Linked DNA regions of Homo sapiens: regions 2, 3 and 4 are each reported to be linked to region 1. The links are microRNA targets in miRTarBase. Many come from high-throughput screens and were not tested one by one. Region 1 holds a microRNA gene; each other region holds the end of a gene's coding sequence.

Region 1 (5,205 bases):
TCCGCCATTGTAGATATTTGAGGTAGCAATTACTGCATCCTATTATTTAGTTTCACTGAAAAAGATAGGATGTGGTCATTCATGAATACAACAGAGACCCACAGAGATGTGAGGCTGTGAGGATGCCCAGCAGCGTACGAGGCTCACACATCAGACATGCGGCCCCTTCCCATACAAACACAACCTCTAAGCACTTCCAATCTAAGTTCTATTATTATTATTATTATTATTTTTGAGACAGAGTCTAGTTCCGTCACCAGGCTGGAGTGCAGTGGTGCGATCTCAGCTCACTGCAACCTCCGCCTCCTGAGTTCAAGTGATTCTCCTGCCTCAGCCTCCTGAGTAGCTGGGATTGCAGGCACGTGCTGCCACAACCAGCTAATTTTTGTATTTTTAGTAGCGACGGGGTTTCACCATGTTGGCCAGGCTGGTATTGATCTCCTGACCTCGTGATCTGCCCACCTTGGCTTCCCAAAGTGCTGGAATTACAGGTGTGAGCCATCACACCCAGCCTACTATTATTATTTTTTGGGGGACAGGGTCTTGCTACATCACCCAGGCTGGAGTGCAGTGGCACTTTCTTAGTCCACTGCAGCCTTGAACTTCTGGGCTCCAGTGATCTTCCTGCCTCAGCCTCCCAAGTAGCTGGGACTACAGGCACATGTCACCATGCCTGGCTAGTTTTTTAAAATTATTTTTTTGTAGCTATGGGGTCTCACTGTGTTGCCCAGGCTGATCTCAAAATCCTGGCCTCAAGCTACCCTCCTGCCTCGTCCTCCCAAAGTGTTAGGATTCTATGCATTAGCCATGGCAACCAGCTAAGTTCTCTTCTCAGCAAAATTGTAAATACCTTTTGGGTGAATCTCAGTGGAAATTAAGGAAATCTAAATCTAAAATGTTAGTGGTGGGTGATTTGTATTGGTTCACTCTTCATCTGCAATTACATAGTGGACACTTACTGAAAATTGGGGGAGGGGACATATTCATAATCCCATGCTCTAAATCAAGGGCCCACAGTCTTTTTCTATAAGAGCAGATAGCAAACATTTTAAGCTTTGTGGTCCAGGAGGCCACCTGCTCTACCTTTGTAGCATGAAAGTAGTCCCAGACTATGTGGAAATGGAGGAGTGTGTCTGTATTTACAGGCTGTACAGACAGGCAGCAGGTCAAAATCTGGCTTGTGGTTGTTAGTCAATTCAAAGGTCCATTTTTTGCACACAGAATTTTCTTCCTTTTTTTTTTTTTTTAAGAGAGTCTTGCTATGTTGCCCAGGCTGGTCTCAAACTCCTGGGCTGCTCAAGTAATCCTCCTGCCTTGGCCTCCCGATGTGCTGAGATTATACCACACCTGGCCTACAGCGCTTTTTATTCTGTGAAAACACTGTTTTAACAACTTTAATAACTGTATTTTTAGTAGAGATGGGGTTTCATCATGTTGGCCAGGCTTAGCTGGGTGTGGTGGCGCATGCCTGTAATCCCAGCTACTGGGGAGGCTGAGGCAGGAGAATCTCTTGAATCCAGGAGGCGGAGGTTGCAATGAGCCGAGGTCATGCCATTGCACTCCAGGTGGGGAAACAAGAGTGAAACTCCATCTCAAAAAAAAGAAGAAGAAAAAAAACCAACTGTATTCACTTCAGTGTACATACCATTTGCTATTTCTTTTTTTTCCTTACCTCACTGGATTTCTTAAGCATTTTTTCATGTTTTTAAAGCATCGTAATGATTTTCATTGTTAATGGCTGCAGATTATGTCATCTTGATGCACCATTTGTACCACTTACTTTCCCATAAAACTATTTTTATCTGTAGGTATAAGTATGGTGACTATATATACATAAATATATGTTTTATATATATATATATATTTCTGCCTCAAACATTGGCACAACTGCTCTGATAAGAAGAAGGTTATTCAAATAGATAGAAGAATAGAATTAAAACAATTTTTTACTGTCTTAAATTTTTTTTTTAAGACAGGGTCTCACTCTGTCACCCAGGCTAGAGTGCAATGGCATGATCATAGCCCACTGCAACCTCAAACTCCTGAGCTCAAATGATCCTCCCACCTCTACCTCCCAAGTAGCTAGTACTAGAGGCACACACCACCAGGCCTGGCTAATTTTTTTATTTTATTTTTTTGTAGAGATGGGGCCTTGTTATGTTGGCCAGGCTGGTCTCAAACTCCCGGCCTCAAGTGTTCCTCTTGTCTCAGCCTCCTAATGTGCTGGGATTTATAGACATGAGCCATCCCACCTGGCCAATAATTTAATGTGCATAAAGGAGCTCTCCTACCTAGTCTTTATCTCTGATTTTCTGGTTGATATAGCAGAGTGGGGTAGAATGCACATGATGTTTGCTGCAAGACAGAGAGGAGTTTGCACCCTGGCTTGTCACTTATAAGTTGTGTGACCTCAAGAATTATTGAGATTGAGTCTCAGTGTCCTCATCAGAAAATGCTTCCTCTGTGAGGTCATTCTGGGTATTAAAGACAATGTCAATGGGTGCGGTGGCTCACGCCTGTAATCCCAGCACTTTGGGAGGCTGAGGCAGGTGTATCACTTGAGATCGGGAGTTTGAGACCAGCCTGGCCAACATGTTGAAACCCTATCTCTACTAAAAATACAAAAATTAGCTGATGTGGTGGCACATGCCTGTAATCCCAGCTACTTGGGAGGCTGAAGCAGGAGAATCGCTTGAACCCGGAGGTGGAGGTTGCAGTGAGCAGAGATCACACCACTGCACTCCAGCCCAGGCAACAGAGAGAGACTCCGTCTCAAAAGGAAAAAAAAAAAAAAAAGGCAATGTCTGTAAAGCACTTAGCTCAGTGCATGGTATCCAGGACATGTCAGTAAGTGAGATCTCTGCTTATCATAATAGTTCATTAGTTATGCTGCCTCATGGCCCAGTTTGATAATCCATCTTCCCTTTAGAACTGTGGCATAAGAGTCCATGTAGGAAGAGCACCCTCTGGCCACTTCATTTGCTTTTAAAACAAGTCTCAGGGCTGGGCGCAGTAGCTTACACCTGTAATCCCATCACTTTAGGAGGCTGAGGCAGGCAGATCCTCTGAGGTCAGGAGTTCAAGACCAGCCTGGCCAATATGGTGAAACCCTGTCTCTACTAAAAATACAAAAACTAGCAGGGCATGGTGGTAGGTGCCTGTAATCCCAGCTACTCGGGAGGCTGAGGCAGGAGAATCGCATGAACCCAGGAGGCAGAGACTGCAGTGAGCCAAGATCGTGCCACTGCCCTCCAGCCTGGGCGACAAAAGCAAGACTCCATCTCAAAAAAAAGTCTCATTTACGTAGTGCTTTATGGTTTATAGAACACTTTTAATGATCTTTATCCTTTGTGTAATTCCAGCCTTAGCCAAATTGACAGAGTGTAATCTAGCACAGGCTGTGGGTCAAGTCCAGCACCCCCATGCTAGGTGAGTAAACCAAAAGCTGGATTATCTAAGTGACCTGCTAACAGTTGCATGGCCAGCAAAGCACTTGTTTGTGGAATATGACTTATCTTTATTCTGTGGACCTCCCCTCTCCCATTTCATTCTTAGTAAAGTTACTAATGGGTAAAGTTCCAACTTTTTTTTTTTACTAAATTTCATCCTATCCCCTTAAGACCATGTTGGGTACATGTTGCTTTTATATAGATTTGCAGAGAATAAAAAATTACATTCCTAAGATACCTCTAATGTATGAGAAGCCATGCCACTTTTTAATAAAAGGACAAATTTTTCCAAGAGGAAAGGACTGTAACATCACCTGATGTTAAGATAGGGCCTAGTTAGGTTGGTGCAAAAGTAACTGCGGTTTTTGCCTTTCAACATAATGGCAAAACCCACAATTACTTTTGCACCAATCTAATAGGTTGATTGCCAAGTCTCCTTGCACTTTCCATCATCTATTACCGTTTCATTCGTACGCTGGGTCTCACATCTGATATCCAACATGCTCCTCAGAACACTCGTGCTCTTCTTTTGAAGGGATATTTTATGGGATTATTCAGATCTACAGGCCACAAAAGCCAGCAATCCCAGAAACTCCAGCCACTTTGTTTGAAACAGAGTTTAGGTCTCAGAAGAACTGGAACGCTGCCACGCAAAGGAGTTTTTGATTGGCTTGTGATGTGCCACTGGTTCTTTATTAGAGGGTACAGAGGGCTGATGAAGTCAACTATTTGGCAAATGCTAAAGGCTAGGGCAGGCTCCTATGCCTCTGCAACATTGATTGATGTCACATCATGGGATCGTAGGCAATAACAGGGAATTCAGTTTACCAAGGAACTTCTGGAAGGCTTAGCAACAACACCACCCTTTTTTTGTTCCTTTGTTTTTGCTTTTGTTTTGAGATGGAGTCTCATTCTGTCGCCAGGCTGGAGTGCAGTGGTGTGATCTTGGCTCACTGTAACCTCTGCCTCCCGGATTTAAACAATTCTCCTGCCTCAGCCTCCCAAGTAGCTGGGACTACATGCACGTGCCACCATGCCCAGCTAATTTTTGTATTTTTAGTAGAGACAGCGTTTTACCATGTTGGCCAGGCTGGTCTCGATCTCTTGATCTCGTGGTCTGCCTGCTTCAGCCTCCTAAGTAGCTGGGACTACAGGCGTGTGCCACCATGCCCAGCTAATTTTTGTATTTTTAGTACAGACAGGGTTTTACCATGTTGGCCAAGCTGGTCTTGATCTCTTGACCTCGTGATCTGCCTGCCTCAGCCTCCCAAAGTGCTGGGATTACAGGCGTGAGCCACCGCACCCGGCCGGAAACAACATCGTTTTTGAGAAACCTCCCTAGTTTCTCCTTAGGGTGATAACCAGGACCAATGCTTGGATTTCAAAAGCCAATATACTAGGGCTTAGTCAGAAAGGATGCATTTGGTCACAACAGAAAGCTCTGGTGCATCAGTTTACACCATAAGAATAGTTCGTTATTGCACCTAGGAGGAAGTTTGGAAGGTAGAGTGGCTCCAAGGTTGGGTAATTCAGTAGCTCAATGATGTCACCAATGATCTGGTTATTCCTATCTTTCTCCTTTGCTATTATCTTATGTCAGTTTTCCATGCAGGCTAGCTTTGCCCCATAGTCATGAAACAGATACAGCAATATTAGGCATCACCTCCAGAATCAACTCTCTCCAGAAGAACAAGAATATGGAAAAACAAGATATGACATCACTTTTTGGTACCCCTGTGTCTGAGAAAGGAAACCT
Region 2 (5,182 bases), not on the chromosome of region 1:
TGAGAGCACCTAGGAAAGGAGTCTTTAGCTTTGTCTTAAATTTCAGTTATATTAATTATACAGTACCCATCTCTTTTCCACTCCTGAATAACATCTAACATCTAGAAACTTTATGAAAATCATTATTGATTTGAGCATTTTTAACATTAACTTGTTGCCTTAGACACCAACTCTACAACATTACCTGTCATATACTGAAGAATCTCTTCTTCCAGTTATGCAGCACCTGGCTAAGAATGTAGTCATGGTAAATCAAGGACTTACAAAGCACATGGTGAGTCAATATAGTGGCATTGTAAGATGCTGAAAAGTGTAATAATTCAAACTTAATGCCTGCAAATGCCTGGTTTATTTTTAATGAGTTAATGTTTTAAATGAATACCTGTATCATTGCATCTTGTGATTTTTTTTCTTTTGCCTCTTTAATTGCTATCTTTTTGTCTTCCAGACTGTCAAGAACAAGTATGCCACATCGAAGCATGCTAAGATCAGCACTCTACCACAGCTGAATTCTGCACTAGTTCAAGATTTAGCCAAGGCTGTGGCAAAGGTGTAACTTGTAAACTTGAGTTGGAGTACTATATTTACAAATAAAATTGGCACCATGTGCCATCTGTACATATTACTGTTGCATTTACTTTTAATAAAGCTTGTGGCCCCTTTTACTTTTTTATAGCTTAACTAATTTGAATGTGGTTACTTCCTACTGTAGGGTAGCGGAAAAGTTGTCTTAAAAGGTATGGTGGGGATATTTTTAAAAACTCCTTTTGGTTTACCTGGGGATCCAATTGATGTATATGTTTATATACTGGGTTCTTGTTTTATATACCTGGCTTTTACTTTATTAATATGAGTTACTGAAGGTGATGGAGGTATTTGAAAATTTTACTTCCATAGGACATACTGCATGTAAGCCAAGTCATGGAGAATCTGCTGCATAGCTCTATTTTAAAGTAAAAGTCTACCACCGAATCCCTAGTCCCCCTGTTTTCTGTTTCTTCTTGTGATTGCTGCCATAATTCTAAGTTATTTACTTTTACCACTATTTAAGTTATCAACTTTAGCTAGTATCTTCAAACTTTCACTTTGAAAAATGAGAATTTTATATTCTAAGCCAGTTTTCATTTTGGTTTTGTGTTTTGGTTAATAAAACAATACTCAAATACAAAAGGTATCTTTTTTAAAAAGTTAGTTTACTGCTTCCTTAGGCTCTTTCTAAATCCCACCCACCTGAAGGACATCAATTATGGATTTATCCTTCATGCCTTGTATAAATACAGATGTGCATATGAATTTTTATGGGTTTTTTAAAAATGTGGTTCATTCTATATACATAACAATTACTTTCAACATACATAAGCCTACCTGTATTTGTGCATTATATTACATGGTACAGATAAATAGTCATGTGCCCCATGAACATTTTGGTCAAAGATAGATTACAGATACAATGGTGGTCCCATAAGATTATGATGCCATATTTTTACTGTACCTCTTCTTGTGCCTAGATACACAAATACTGACTTGTGTTATAATTGCCTGCAGTATTCAATAATATGGTGTATAGATTTGTAGCCTAGGAGCTATAACCTATACTATATAGCCTAGGAGTGCAGGAGGGTATGCCATCTAGATTTGTGTGAGTACACTGATGTTTGAACAATAAAATCACCTAATGATAGGTTTCTCAAACCATATCCCAGTCCTTAAGCAACACATGACTAATGGATTCAACCATTTCCCCTGTTCGTTCAGATTGCTTTTTCTTTTTGCCCCTACAATTTTGTTGATAATACTGTTTTTTGGGGCTTTTGTTTTTGTTTTTTTTTTTTTTTTTGAGACAAGAGTCTCACTCTGTCGTCAGGCTGGAGTGCAATGGCGCTATCTCAGCTCACTGCAACCTCTGCCTCCCAGGTTCAAGCGATTCTCCTGCCTCAGCCTCCTGAGTAGCTGAGATTACAGGCATGCGCCACCGCGCCCGGCTAATTTTGTATTTTTAGTAGAGACGCAGTTTCACCATGTTGGTCAGGCTGGTCTTGAACACCCGACCTCAGGTGATCCACCCGCCTCAGCTTCCCAAAGTGCTGGGATTAAAGGCGTGAGCCACCACACCTGGCCAATTTACTGTTTTATACCATGCTTTTTTGTGTGTATTCTAGGTTCCCTAAAGCAAACATGCATTTTAAATTTTGATAGAACCAGATGACATACAAAAGTGCCTGTTTTCTCTGCATTATTAAAACTGAAGGTAATCAGTCTTTTATTTCTATGACTCCAACTGGCAAAAAATATTTGCCATTTTAACTTTTTTTTTTTGAGACGGAGTCAAAAGGTGCCAGTTTTCTCTGCATTATTAAAACTGAAGGTAATCAGTCTTTTATTTCTATGACTCCAACTGGCAAAAGATATTTGCCACGTTAACTTTTTTTTTTTTTTTTTTGAGACGGAGGCTCACACTGTCACCCAGGCTGAAGTGCAGTGGCATGATCTCAGCTCACTTGCAACCTCCGCCTCCCAGGTTCAAGTGATTCTCCTGCCTCAGCCTCCCAAGGAGTTGGGATTACAGGCGCATACCCGGCTTATTTTTTGTATTTTTAGTAGAAACGGGATTTCACCGTGTTAGCCAGGATGGTCTCAATCTCCAGACTTCGTGATCGCCCACCTCGGCCTCCCAAAGTGCTGGGATTACAGGCGTGAGCCACCGCGCCCGGCCCTCAGTAGGCGATTTTTATATGTGGTATAAAGTAGAATTCTTACAGATGGATACCCGTTTATGCCAGTGCCATGACTGAAACCCTGCTTGTCCAACTTGAAATATCTTCAATGCCCATCTATTCTTCCTTGATCTTGTTTTTTCCTGTGATAATACAATAGTTTTTACCAGTTAATCAGTTAAGATGAGGCTTACCAAATATATGGGAGTACTACTGAACACTTTTCTATAAAAACTTTAAAATTGTGTACAGTTACCAAAAAGTTCCTTTGAGTTTTGTTGTTGTTGTTTTGTTTTTTGAGAGGGAGTCTCGTTCTGTTGCCCAGGCTGGAGTGCAGTGGTGCGATCTCAGCTCACTGCAACCTCTGCCTCCCTGGTTCAAGTGATTCTCCTGCCTCAGCCTCCGGAGTAGCTGGGACTACAGGCACGGGCCACCATGCCTGGCTAATTTTTTTGTATTTTTAGTAGAGACAGGGTTTCACCACGTTGGCAGTTTGGTCTCGAACTTTTGACCTCAGGTGATCCGCCCGCCTCAGCCTCCCAAAGTGCTGGGATTACAGGCGTGACCCACCGCGCCCGACCCTCCTTTGAGATTTTGACTATACATTATGTACTAGCTTGGGATAGACTGACATATTATCTTACCATCTAGAAACTATCAATCCTTGTTGCATGCCCTTCAATAACGTTGGAATTTAATTGTATAATTCTGCAACTTTCTTAAATTTATGGTTGGATTTATGCCTTTTGCCTTTTGTCGTTATTGTGAATGGGATATATTTCCCACTTCTGTTTCTTTAAATTTTTTTCTTCATCTCCCTAGTAGTGTATCCCACTCCTGTTTAGTTTTAAATAGAGACAATGTCTCTCTGTCGCCCAGGATGGAGTACAGTGGTGCAATCATAGTGCACTGCTGCCCTGAACTCCAGCTATCCTACCACCTCAGCTTTCTAGGTAGCTATCACTACAGGTGGGCCAACCACATTTGGCTAATATTTTATTTTTTCCTTTTCTGTGTAGAGATGGGGTCTCACTATGTTGTCCAAGCTGGTCTCAAACTCCTGGCCTCAAGTGACTCTCCCACTTCAGCCTCTTAAAGCACCGGGATTATAGACGTGAGCCAATGCGCCTGACGCCCACTTCTATTTTTAATATCTTATCCAGTTGACATCAGTTTTCCTTCTTTAATATTTTTGTTGTTGTTGTTGTTGAGACAGAGTCTAGCTCTGTTGCCCAAGCTGGAGTGCAGTGGCGCGATCTCGGCTCACTGCAAACTCTGCCCCGCCGGGTTCACACCATTCACGTGCCTCAGCCTCCCGAGTAGCTGGGACTAGGGGTGCCCGCCACCACGCCCAGCTAATTTTTTGTATTTTTAGTAGAGACAGGGTTTCACTGTGCCAGCCACGATGATCTCGATCTCCTGACCTCATGATCCACCCGGCAGTGGCCCCCCAAAATGCTGAGATTACAGGTGTGAGCCACTGTGCCCAGCCCTTCTTGAGTGTTTTTTATTGGAGAATTTTCTAGTCCTTAAATCCAAAAGTTTCACCTATTTTATAATATTAGAATCTCTGAAATAATCAGTGATAATAAATGGTTTCCTGTCACTGAATTGATGTCACACAGTAATAGAAACTACAAAGACCAATTAAATAGCAAAAAATATCAAATGATAAAAATACTATGTCATGTTTATTTTTTAAATTTTGATTCCATGCTGTGCTCAAACTGTGGAGTTTTTAATAGGCAAGGTTGTGGAATTCCATTAACATTTTCAGCGTATGATATCATTTTGGCTTCTCTCTTTTGATATAGTATTCCACCTTAGAGATTTCCTATTGTGTCCGAAATTTGTTCCTTCCGGTGGGTTCTTGGTCTCGTTGACTTCAAGAATGAAGCCACGGACCCTCGCGGTGAGTGTTACAGTTTTTAAAGATGGTGTGTCCGGAGTTTATTCTTTCTGATGTTCAGGTGTATCCGGAGTTTCTTCCTTCTGGTGGGTTCATGTTCTCGCTGACTTCAGGAGTGAAGCCGCAGACCTTCGACCTTTGCAGTGAGTGTTACAGTGTTACAGCTCATAAAGACAGCACTGTTCTCTTCTCCCGGTGGGTTCATGGTCTCGCTGGCTTCAGGAGTGAAGCTGCAGACCTTCCGGTGAGTGTTACAGCTCATAAAGGCAGTGCAGACCCAAAGAGTGAGCAGCAGCAGGATTTACTGCAAAGAGCAAAACAACAAACATTCCACAGCATAGAATAGAACCCATGCCCCTGCTGGCACAGGTGGCCAGCTTTTATTCCCTTATTTCGCCCTGCCCACTTCCTGCTGATTGGTCCATTTTACAGAGTGCTGATTGGTCCATTTTTACAGAGTGCTGATTGGTGCGTTTACAAACCTTTAGCTAGACACAGAGCACTGATTGGTGCGTTTTTACACAGTGCTGATTGGTGCATTTACAAATCTTTAGTTAGA
Region 3 (5,205 bases), not on the chromosome of region 1:
ATGCCTAATGTGTGCTCATTGCTTTCCGTCCCTGGGATATAGCAGAGGACAAATCAAAAGTTCCTTACCAAATTTACATTTTGCGGTGGGGGAGGGACAGGATACATAATAAAGAAAGTATGGAAATTTTATAGAGCCAAAAACTATACAAAGTAAGGGAGGAATGAAATTCTATTTCAGATTGGAAGATCGGGTCCATGCTCATAAAACATATTAGCATTGTTGGCCGGGCGCGGTGGCTCATGCCTGTAATCCCAGCACTTTGGGAGGCCAAGGCGGGCGGATTATCTGAGGTCAGGAGTTCGAGACCAGCCTGGCCAAGATGGCGAAACCCTGTCTCTACTAAAAATATAAAAATTAGCCTGGCGTGGTGGTGTGCGCCTGTAGTCCCAGCCACTCGGGAGGCTGAGGCAGGAGAATCATTTGAACATGGGAAGCAGAGTTTGCAGTGAGCCGAGATCCCACCACGGCACTCCAGCCTGAGCAACAGAGGAAGTCTCTGTCTCAAACAAACAAAAAAGTGACCGTTGCTAGGACTGGTTTGCCTGCAGCAGGAGTGAAGACAGGTCAGGTATAAGGGAAGACCTCTAGGCAGGAAGAAACTGGGGAACTGGGGAAAGTTGTTAAAGACAAAATCTCCAAACTAAGGAACAGGCAAACTGTGTTCTGCATTTTTGCTTAACAGCTTGAGAAAATCACTGGTGGCTGCTTATTTAAAAGTAAGCAAGGCCAGGTGCAGTGGCTCTTGCTGTAATCCCAGCACTTTGGGAGGCTGAGGCAGGAGGATATCTTGAGACCAGGGGTTTGAGACCAGCCTGGGCAACAGGGTGAGACCCCACCATCTCTACAAAAAATTAGCCAGGTGTGGAGGTGTGCACCTGTAGTCCCAGCTACTCTGGAGACTGAGACAGGAGAATTTTTTTTTTTTTTTTTGGAGACAGAGTCTCGCTCTGTTGCCCAGACTGGAGTGCAATGGCACGATCTCGGCTCACTGCAACTTCCGCCTCCCAGGTTCAAGTGATTCTCCTGCCTCAGCCTCCTGAGTAGCTGGAATTACAAGTGTGACAAGCACATGCCATCACGCCCAGCTAGTTTTTGTATTTTTAATACAGATGGGGTTTTACCATGTTGGTCAGGCTGGTCTCAAACTCCTGACCTCATGATCCGCCCGTCTCGGCCTCCCAAAGTGCTGGGATTACAGGCGTGAGCCACCGCACTGGGCCTGAGACAGGAGAATCTCTTGAGCCCAGGAGCCAGAGGTTGCAGTGAGCCGAGGTCAGGCACTCCAACCTAGGCAACAGACCAAGACTATGCTCAAAAAAAAAAAACAAACAAAACAAAAAGCTGAATTTGTTACTCGATGCTCTGCTGTCTGATTTGTTTGATCCTGCATCATACTTTTGTGATTAATTGCAGTTACCAGGCACTACTGTTAGGAAATGAAACATTGTTCTTATTAATAGCCACAAGTGGATCTACATCACTGACTTTTTTTTTTTTTTTTTTGGAAAGGGAGTCTCGGAGTCTCACTCTGTCGCCCAGGCTGGAATGCAGTGGCGTGATCTTGGCTCACTGCAGCCTCCACCTCCTGGGTTCAAGCAATTCTCCTGCCTCAGCCTCCTGAGTAGGCGGGACTACAGGTGCGTGCCACCACGTCCAGCTAATTTTTTGTATTTTAGTAGAGACGGGGTTTCATCATGTTGCCCAGGCTGGTCTCAAACTCCTCAGATGAGGCAGTCCACCCGCCTTGGCATCCCAAAGTGTTAGGATTACAGGCATGAGCCACCACACCTGGCCTGACCTCTTGAATGCATTGTTTTCTGTTTCTGAGATGGACTGTGAGCACCCCTGGCACCTCGGAGCTTCCTAACTCTGTTTTCCTGGGTCACAACTGGAAACTTTTTAAGACCTTTACCTAACAGGCTACTAATATAATCATTCTGTTTCCTTCCCTACCCAGACCTTCTCTGAACTGGCTGAGTCTTTTGACACCTGGCTTGTTCTCTTGCTAGTAAATTGAAAACCTTTGGCGTATGCTTAAGTTCAATTTGTCTCATATATTTTGTTTTATAGTAAAGGTGTGGGGCCTCCTCTGACCAGTCTGAGAGGAGCAACTTGTAGTGGTAGAAGGACTATAACTATTCAACCATATCTTTGTTAGCCTGGAGAGCTAACAACAAACAAACAAATTTTCCTGATGAGTAAAATATTGATGTTCCACATTTGTATAAGATATTCTTTGAAATGGGAAAATTCCAAATATCAACTACATGGGCACCAAAGCCATGCACTATCAAGATGGTTTTTAAACCTTTTTTTTTTTTTTTGAGATGGAGTCTCACTCTGCTGCCCAGGCTGGAGTGTAATGGCGCAATCTCAGCTCACTGCAAGCTCCACCTCCCGGGTTCATGCCATTCTCCTGCCTCAGCCTCCCGAGTAGCTGGGACTACAGGTGCCCACCACTATGCCCCGCTAATTTTTTGTATTTTTAGTAGAGACGGGGTTTCACCGTGTTAGCCAGGATGGTCTCAATCTCCTGACCTTATGATCCGCCTGCCTCGGCCTCCCAAAGTGCTGGGATCACAGGCGTGAGCCACCGTGCCCGGCCTTTAGGCCTTTAACGATATAAAATCCATTGTCTATCAGAGGGGAACCTTTTCCAGGAAACTGACTCTTGTACATACTTACTTCATTTTGCAGCAATTTCAGATTTAGTATTCGTAGCCCCAGCTCTTTAAGTAAGTATCCCTGGATTAGCCACATGGGTTGTGTCATACACTACCTAGCTGCCTTCATGGCAGCAGGCTTCTGAATACTAGAACCCTTCAACTCAAAGTGTCCTCTGTAATATTTTAACCCTTTTCTTCTATTCATTCATTTGTTGTCATTCATTCTAGAAATAATTCCGTGTCTACTAGTTGACAGGTACAGGATATTGCAGTGAATCCAGCTGATGTAGTCAGCCCTCATGGCACTTCCAGTCTAGTGGACACTTCAACTGCCCTTTCTCATGTCACCTGCTTGTCCTGCGTGAAACCCACGTGCAGCTTCCCAGACCCCTTTTGACATGTCAGTGCCGAGTTCCTGGTTCATCCCCCATCATTTTCCTCTCCCCCAGCCACCAGAGCCTCCCCTCACATACCCTTTTTTTTTCCCAAAGAAGGAGAAGCAGACGAGTTGAAGAGAACTCCATTTTATTATGGAAAGTTAAAAAACAAACAAAACAAAACAGGCAATTGATAAAGGCGGCACAATGGGGAAGGAGAGGTGAGGTGTCTCCTTAGCCACCCGACACCATCTCAATTCAGTTCAATTGTGAACCACTAGGAGAAACAGAATTAAATAACTATCAAGGGGTACAGAGTTAAGAGTTCCAGCCTTCCCTCTTGGGGAAAACTAAGGCAAAGTAATACTGAGAAAAAGTGGAGGAAGCCACACCTTCAGGTCACTCCAATGAGGAGACTGGAGGGGACAGAGGAGAGAATTCCACGCAGACACAGCAAGTAAGCGTGGCTTGTAAACCTGGGACTTTGGCAGGTGGGGCTGGGAGCTGATGGAATTTGTAAACCAGGCTGTGGTCAAGGGAGGAGGCAGGAGCTGTAAACAAAGGGGCAGTGACCTAGGAAATGAAGGAGATGTGCCTATAAATGGAGTGGGGTCTGGGCCTCCCAGAGAGACGAGTGCTTAAATCCCGAGAGTCCCCACGGGATGGTGGGGAGGAAGGCTGTGGGGAGAGTGTACCCTGCCATGGGGGGCAGGTGCTCCATCTCCACCCTCCAGGGAGTTCTGTGCCCCTTCTCAGGACTTGGCGCTCACTCTTGGATGACCTAGGATGCACCAGCACGTTTAACCCCACCCACACCAGGGACTTTGGATTAGGGTAGAAATTGGGCAATTGGCTCTGCCCCCAGAAACAGGGTGGGGAAAGCAAGTTACAAGATGTTGGTTGCCCTTCCCTGCCAGGCTCATTATCAGGGTCTGTCTGCCCTGAATCTTCCGGGCTCCAGGATCTTCAGTTATAAGAAGGAGGGAGGTATATCCCTATGTTGGAAGATGGTCACCGCCGGCAGGACTCATCTGTGGGAGAGGGGGCAATAATGTTAGAGAATGAGTGAGAGCCTCTGCCTTCTGCCCACCCTTCCCCCCCACACAAATTGAAGGGCAGTTGGCATGCAGGAAGTCCTATAATATCTTCCATATCTAAAGCATGTTACCACCAGTAACCACATCCATCACTCATTTAGCTCGGACTCTGTGCCAGGCATCCTTATAACTGTTTAATCTCACCATAACTCCAGGAGAGATTAAGTAATATGATATCCAGCTGTGGCTCTTGGTGCTTCACAAAAAATTACTTAATCTTGGCCTGGAGCACCTGTAATCCAAGCAATTTGGGAGGCTGAGGCAGGAGGATCACTTGAGGTCAGGAGTTCAAGACCAGCCTGACCAACATGGGGAAACCCTGTCTCTACTAAAAATATAAAAACTAGCCAGGTGTGATGGTACACATCTGTAATCCCAGCTACTAGAGAGGCTGAGGCACAAGAATCGCTTGAATTTGGGAGGCAGAGGTTGCAGTGAGCCAAGGTTGTGCCACTGCATTCCAGTCCAGGCGACAGAGGGAGACGCTGTCTCAAAATAAATAAATAAATAAATAAATAAAATTACTTAATATTTTCTACAAGTCTAGGAGGTAGTTTTTGGTTTCTGTTTTTTTGAGACAGAATTTCACTCTGTCACCCAGGCTGGAGTGTAGTGGCGTCATCTCGGCTCACTGCAACCTCTGCTTCCCGGGTTCAAGTGATTCTCCTGCCTCAGACTCCCGAGTAGCAGGGATTACAGGTGTCCACCTCCATGCCTAGCTAATTTTTGTATTTTTAGTAGAGATGGGTTTTCACTATGTTGGCCAGGCTGGTCTTGAACTTCTGACCTTGAGTGATCCACCTGCCTCGGCCTCCCAAAGTGCTGAGATTACAGGCGTGAGCCACCGTGCCTGGCCTGTTTGTTTCTTTTGAGACAGGTCTTCCTTTGTTGCCCAGGCTGGAGTGCAGTGGGTGGTGCAATATTGGTTCACTGCAGCCTCCAACTCCTGAGGTCAAACGATGCTCCCACCTCAGCCTTCCAAGTACCTGGAACCACAGCTGCGCACTGCCACACCTGGCTAATTTTTTTTTTTTTTTTTGAGACGGAGTCTCACTCTGTTGT
Region 4 (5,000 bases), not on the chromosome of region 1:
CTGTGCTGTCTTGTCAACTTGCTGCTGAATCAGCCTGCATTGACATTCTTTGCCTTTCTGTGTCTTCTCTATCTTTACTGTTTCCATTAGATCCTCCTACTACTACCACCCTTCAGCCTACAATTCAGTGGCATCCCTCAACTGCTGACATCGAGGATCTAGCAACAGAACCTAAAAAATTGCCCTTCCCATTGTCAACTTTGGCAACAATTAAGGATGACACAATTGCCACGATCATTGCTAGTGTAGTGGGTGGGGCTCTCTTCATAGTACTTGTAAGTGTTTTGGCTGGAATATTCTGCTATAGGAGAAGACGGACGTTTCGTGGAGACTACTTTGCCAAGAACTACATTCCACCATCAGATATGCAAAAAGAATCACAAATAGATGTTCTTCAACAAGATGAGCTTGATTCTTACCCAGACAGTGTAAAAAAAGAAAACAAAAATCCAGTGAACAATCTAATACGTAAAGACTATTTAGAAGAGCCTGAAAAAACTCAGTGGAACAATGTAGAAAATCTCAATAGGTTTGAAAGACCAATGGATTATTATGAAGATCTAAAAATGGGAATGAAGTTTGTCAGTGATGAACATTATGATGAAAACGAAGATGACTTAGTTTCACATGTAGATGGTTCCGTAATTTCCAGGAGGGAGTGGTATGTTTAGCAACCACTGAATGTGACTTAACTATGTACAATGTTCATTCACACTAGTTGATCATTTTCAGATTGTTCATACTTTTTCTTGAGGAAGAATAAGCTTTTTCAAGTTGATTTTCAAGCTTACTTTTTATATTCTAATCTGACAAATGAAAATGTAAAATCTGAGTTCAGTGTATCTAAGCTGCTTTACAATTTTTTTTCAATGCTGTACTACTGTCTCAAGATTTAAATTTTAATGCAGAGTACTTTATTGGTGTGAGGCACACAGGTAAGAAGAAATGTCAACATTAAATGTATGACTTACTTGGTACAAAAATTTTTTAAAAAGGGAACTACCTTGACATTGTGTATTAAATGTTTACCTAAGACTATAATCTCAAGTATGATGTTTGTTTAACATATACCTCTCAAAATTTATCACCACTCAATGACACTGCATCAAAATTGACTATAAAACTAATTCAAGAAATATTTATATATATTTTTTAATATACAAAAAATATTTAGCCTGATGGAATGGCTTTCCTTTTCAAACATTATTTTCTAAGTTTCTATACAAATGAAATCTTTACCTCTGCATATTAATGAGCCTTGCCATAATTACTGTAGAGTGGCTTTTCAAAGATATTTTGTTGCACTAAAACTGTGGTAGTAAACTCAGTGAACATGATGTGTGGAAGAGCATAATTAGCTGGTCAATATTTTTGTCCAAAATACCTGCAAGAGTAATAAAATACATACCTTTCAAACATGATAATTATTAGTTTTTTTTTTTCCTTTCTGGAACATGGATTTTGGTACATTAGCAGTAGCCTTATTTTAATGCTTTATGTCCTAAACATACTAATAGAAATGAAAAGACGCAGAGAGAGCATTTCGGAATACTGAAGTACTAGTTTTAGAAATGAGACTTTCAGCCAACAATCTATAGAAAGAATTTTATGGACCATCTTGTTTTAGTTATTTAATGTTGATGTTGTTCAAATGGGTAAATGTACAGAAAGAAAATTTTAGAGTAAACTTGGAACTTTGGATATAACTAGAAAAAACTAGATTATAGAATTAGTCGGTAACACTTGCTAATGGACATTGGCATTCATCTCCTTTTTCCTCCTAAGTGTATGTATGTGTTTTAAGATTTCTGTTTTTACGATTAAAACTGGAAACATGAGGTTTTTTGTTTTTGTTTTTTTACATAATTACATATATTCCTTCTGAATCATTTATCTTTTGAGAAAGAAATGTTACCTAAACTTCAAATGTGCTTTTTGTTTGTGAGGTAATTAAATTGCTTCTACAGTGGAGGCTTACAAAATTATTGTGACAACTATTTTGAAGCTGAAAGGATAGTTTTTCTATTGCTAAGTCATTTGAAAAAGTGACCATTTTGCCAGTGAAATGAAGTGGAAGTTAGTAGGAGAATCATAAATTAAATATATTATTTTGTTAATAAAAAGGCAAAGTAGTAGGTACTTTTTAAACCCTCCCAACCAGCCCTTTCTCAATATTCATCAAATCTAAAACATTTAGGGGGCAAAATTCTAACATGTTCATGGTATCTTGCAAATAGTGAAAGCTTTATTCTGAAGGATTATAAACTAGTTTTCTTCATTTTAACTAGCACTATTTTGTGGAAATTAGAAACCTCTTTTATTTCTCTTCCCAAAAGTAATACTTATTATAAGGCTGTAGTATCAGGTTAAGGATACAGATAAATAAAGTTCACTTATATCTTCTTACAAATGTCTGGGTTTTAATATGGTTAATCACTTATATACAAATATTACAACTTTTTAGTGCAAGTTTTTGGAAGAAAACTTTTTGATAAAACACTGTGATTGATGTGACTTTATTTTTAATTTAAACGATGAGGTGGCCAGAAGAAAGATGGGTCTAAAATTTCTCCCCATGAAAGATGTAAAACTATGGCTTTTTTTAAAATCAAAATTTCATCTTTTAAAATAATGGTTTGAAATACTGTATGGATCTGAACAGAATAATCACATTTAGGATTCTATATAAATCTCAACTGGAGTATAATCTGAAGGAAATTAGCAGTGTATTTTAAGAAATATATTTCAAAAATATAAATACTGATTATGAACTTCCTTTTACATTGTGGTTATTTGTGCGATTAGGTTTTTTTGTTTGTTTCTTTTGTGTTTGTTTGGCGGGAGAGGGTGACCTGGAAAGCCACAAGTGAGTATTTGACATATTCTGTATCCTTAATCCAATCATTTGGCAAACTAAAAGGTTTCTGTGTTGTAAGAATCTGATACTAGTGCTTAAGACTTTGGGAAGCATTGCACTGTTGTTTATTAGAACTTTATGTATATTTACTGTACATAGAGACTTGTTTGAAAACATGAATAGTCATTAAATAAAGACATTGTTAAATTAGTTTTTGAATACCAGTGATATTCATAACTACTTGACAGGTATATATGAAAATTCTACTATCGTGAAAAAAAATGAATATTTGTACTATTTTTGGCCATATTTATATTTATTTCTTTCATATGGTTTGAACTGTTTTAGCATTTTGTAAATTCACTTGAGAGTTTTCTTTCATACTGGTTAAAATATTTCAATGATATAATGAAGATGAATGCAACTCTTATTTTTCTGCCATTTTTTATTAAAATACATTGAAACTAAAGTAGGCTCGGGGTTAACTTTAAAAGTGATATTTGAGAAGTGCTTTAGAGTTGAAAGATTTAGTATTTTACCACGTGCCTAGTAGGGTTCTATTTGCTAACTCTAATATTGAGGAAACTATTAAGGTTTTCAGTAGTAAGTGTTGCTTCTAATAGCCATATACAGGAAAGTTTTATAAGATAACCCACGGCTAAATATTTTGCATTAAGGAGCTGTAGGAGTACAGTGTATAAGTACAGAAATTGAGAGAAATGTAGTCATTTTATATGTGAAAACATCTGATTTGAGTTTTTGATAAATACTGCTAAAACACAGTATATGAACAAGTAAGAAGTTTATGTATGAAAGTAATCAATGTAAAATATAAGAAAGGAATAAATGGTACCCATTTTGAATTTTTAATTCTAATAGGAGAGTAGATTGTAGATTGAATTGTCTTTCCTGTTTACTTGTTAATTAGAAAATGCATCCTTCATAAACAGCTCCTTTCTCAAATTTTTTGTATATTGTGTTTGTGTTTGGGTTTTAGTTTGTACCCGCGCTAAGTTTTGGTTTTGTTGTGTTTGGTGTTTTTTGTTTTGTTTTGTTTTGTTTTGTTTTTTCTTTTTTAACCAACCTGTGTATTAGGTGTTAGCCCCAATAGCCATGCATGAAATCTTTAAATAAAAGTTAAAAAAGTTCTTTAGAGGCATATTTCTGTAATAAGTTCATTGCTCTATGTTACCATCTTTGTCCTCGTATTTACTAAAGTGTGTGTGTATGTGCGTGTGTAACCTAGTTTATTTTAATTATCAAAATGTAATTAATGATTTGTGGGAATCAGAAACCTGTTTTCCTAAAACAAGACTGTAATATCAGATTGAGGATAGTTGGCATGTTGGCCACTGTAAAATTTTTTCCTTTTTTTTTTTTTTTTTTTTGGTGGTTGGGTTTTTTTCTTCCACTTTTAAGTTCAGGGGTGCATGTACAGGTTTGTTACACAGGTAATGTGCCATGGTGGTTTACTACACAAACCCATCACCTAGGTATTAAGCCCAGCATGCATTAACTATAATATTTTATTTTTGATTAACCATTTAATTCCCAATCATGAATTAACATTCTCCATAGTTATAAATTATCTTATCTCTGTAGCCCTAGCTGTTAAAACCCATTTTATATGTTTTTGCTATTACTTTGGCATAAGCCAAATTTTATATATTGGCTTTCAATTTGGAATTAACACATTTCATAAGGTATTTCTTAAGTTGACATTTAGTGTTTTTTACTTACTACTTTTTGTGAGCTACTTTGATTAGAAATGCCATTGCTTTGAATTGTTTATAATCACCTTGTGATGCATCACTTTGTTTCCTATTTCTGGCTTTTTAAATTGTATTTTTTAAACTATTTTTGACCAGGGTTTTTCTTTGATAATACACAGTTAGACTGGGTTGTTTTGTTCCCTTCTTGGTATCCCAATAAAAAAAATTCATGCATGAAACAGTCTTTGAGGGGTTTGCACAGTAAACCAACTTTCATCTGTTTTTAAAAATGCTTTTCTGTTTATATATTTCTGGGTTTTTTTTCTGTTATAGTCCAGTCATCTGCTTTTTTGTAAAGTACATATATACTTTGACTTGACACTTTGACTTGAGTAGTGTTAGGTTTTTATCAAGAGCTTGAAACCAAAATT

What was found. The annotated mature microRNA hsa-miR-548w reads AAAAGUAACUGCGGUUUUUGCCU and lies in region 1 at 3,798-3,820, shown strand. An mRNA with a match to its seed (bases 2 to 7 or 8) in the 3' UTR can be bound and repressed. Matches are read on the target gene's strand: a 7mer-m8 pairs with bases 2 to 8, a 7mer-A1 pairs with bases 2 to 7 and ends in A, and an 8mer does both.
Region 2: miRTarBase lists CCNB1 as a target of hsa-miR-548w. Seed matches in the 3' UTR shown: 7mer-m8 at 635-641, 7mer-m8 at 663-669, 8mer at 837-844 and 7mer-m8 at 1,031-1,037.
Region 3: the mRNA of PPP1R18 is a reported target of hsa-miR-548w. Seed matches in the 3' UTR shown: 7mer-m8 at 3,404-3,410.
Region 4: miRTarBase lists NECTIN3 as a target of hsa-miR-548w. Seed matches in the 3' UTR shown: 7mer-m8 at 788-794 and 7mer-A1 at 911-917.

Annotation. Positions count from the first base shown.
Region 1 is chr16:26,021,449-26,026,653 of GRCh38, forward strand. It overlaps MIR548W (microRNA 548w), which reads left to right and starts at 3,789; the gene lies at 3,789-3,862. The region is part of intron 1 of HS3ST4 (heparan sulfate-glucosamine 3-sulfotransferase 4); the gene reads left to right.
Region 2 is chr5:69,177,076-69,182,257 of GRCh38, forward strand. It overlaps CCNB1 (cyclin B1), which reads left to right. Exons shown (of 9, transcript NM_031966.4): 8 at 164-274; 9 at 449-1,170. The coding sequence ends at 556. It overlaps LOC112267932 (a long non-coding RNA gene), which reads right to left. Exons shown (of 2, transcript XR_002956215.2): 2 at 4,379-4,927. Among named protein-coding and RNA genes, the nearest start is that of CENPH, 9.9 kb to the right of the region's middle.
Region 3 is chr6:30,673,212-30,678,416 of GRCh38, forward strand. It overlaps PPP1R18 (protein phosphatase 1 regulatory subunit 18), which reads right to left. Exons shown (of 3, transcript NM_133471.4): 3 at 3,178-4,077. The coding sequence ends at 4,058. Among named protein-coding and RNA genes, the nearest start is that of DHX16, 2.8 kb to the left of the region's middle. RefSeq lists an enhancer at 1-106 and a silencer at 1,748-1,887.
Region 4 is chr3:111,133,545-111,138,544 of GRCh38, forward strand. NECTIN3 (nectin cell adhesion molecule 3) reads left to right here. Exons shown (of 6, transcript NM_015480.3): 6 at 91-4,016. The coding sequence ends at 671. Among named protein-coding and RNA genes, the nearest start is that of NECTIN3, 64 kb to the left of the region's middle.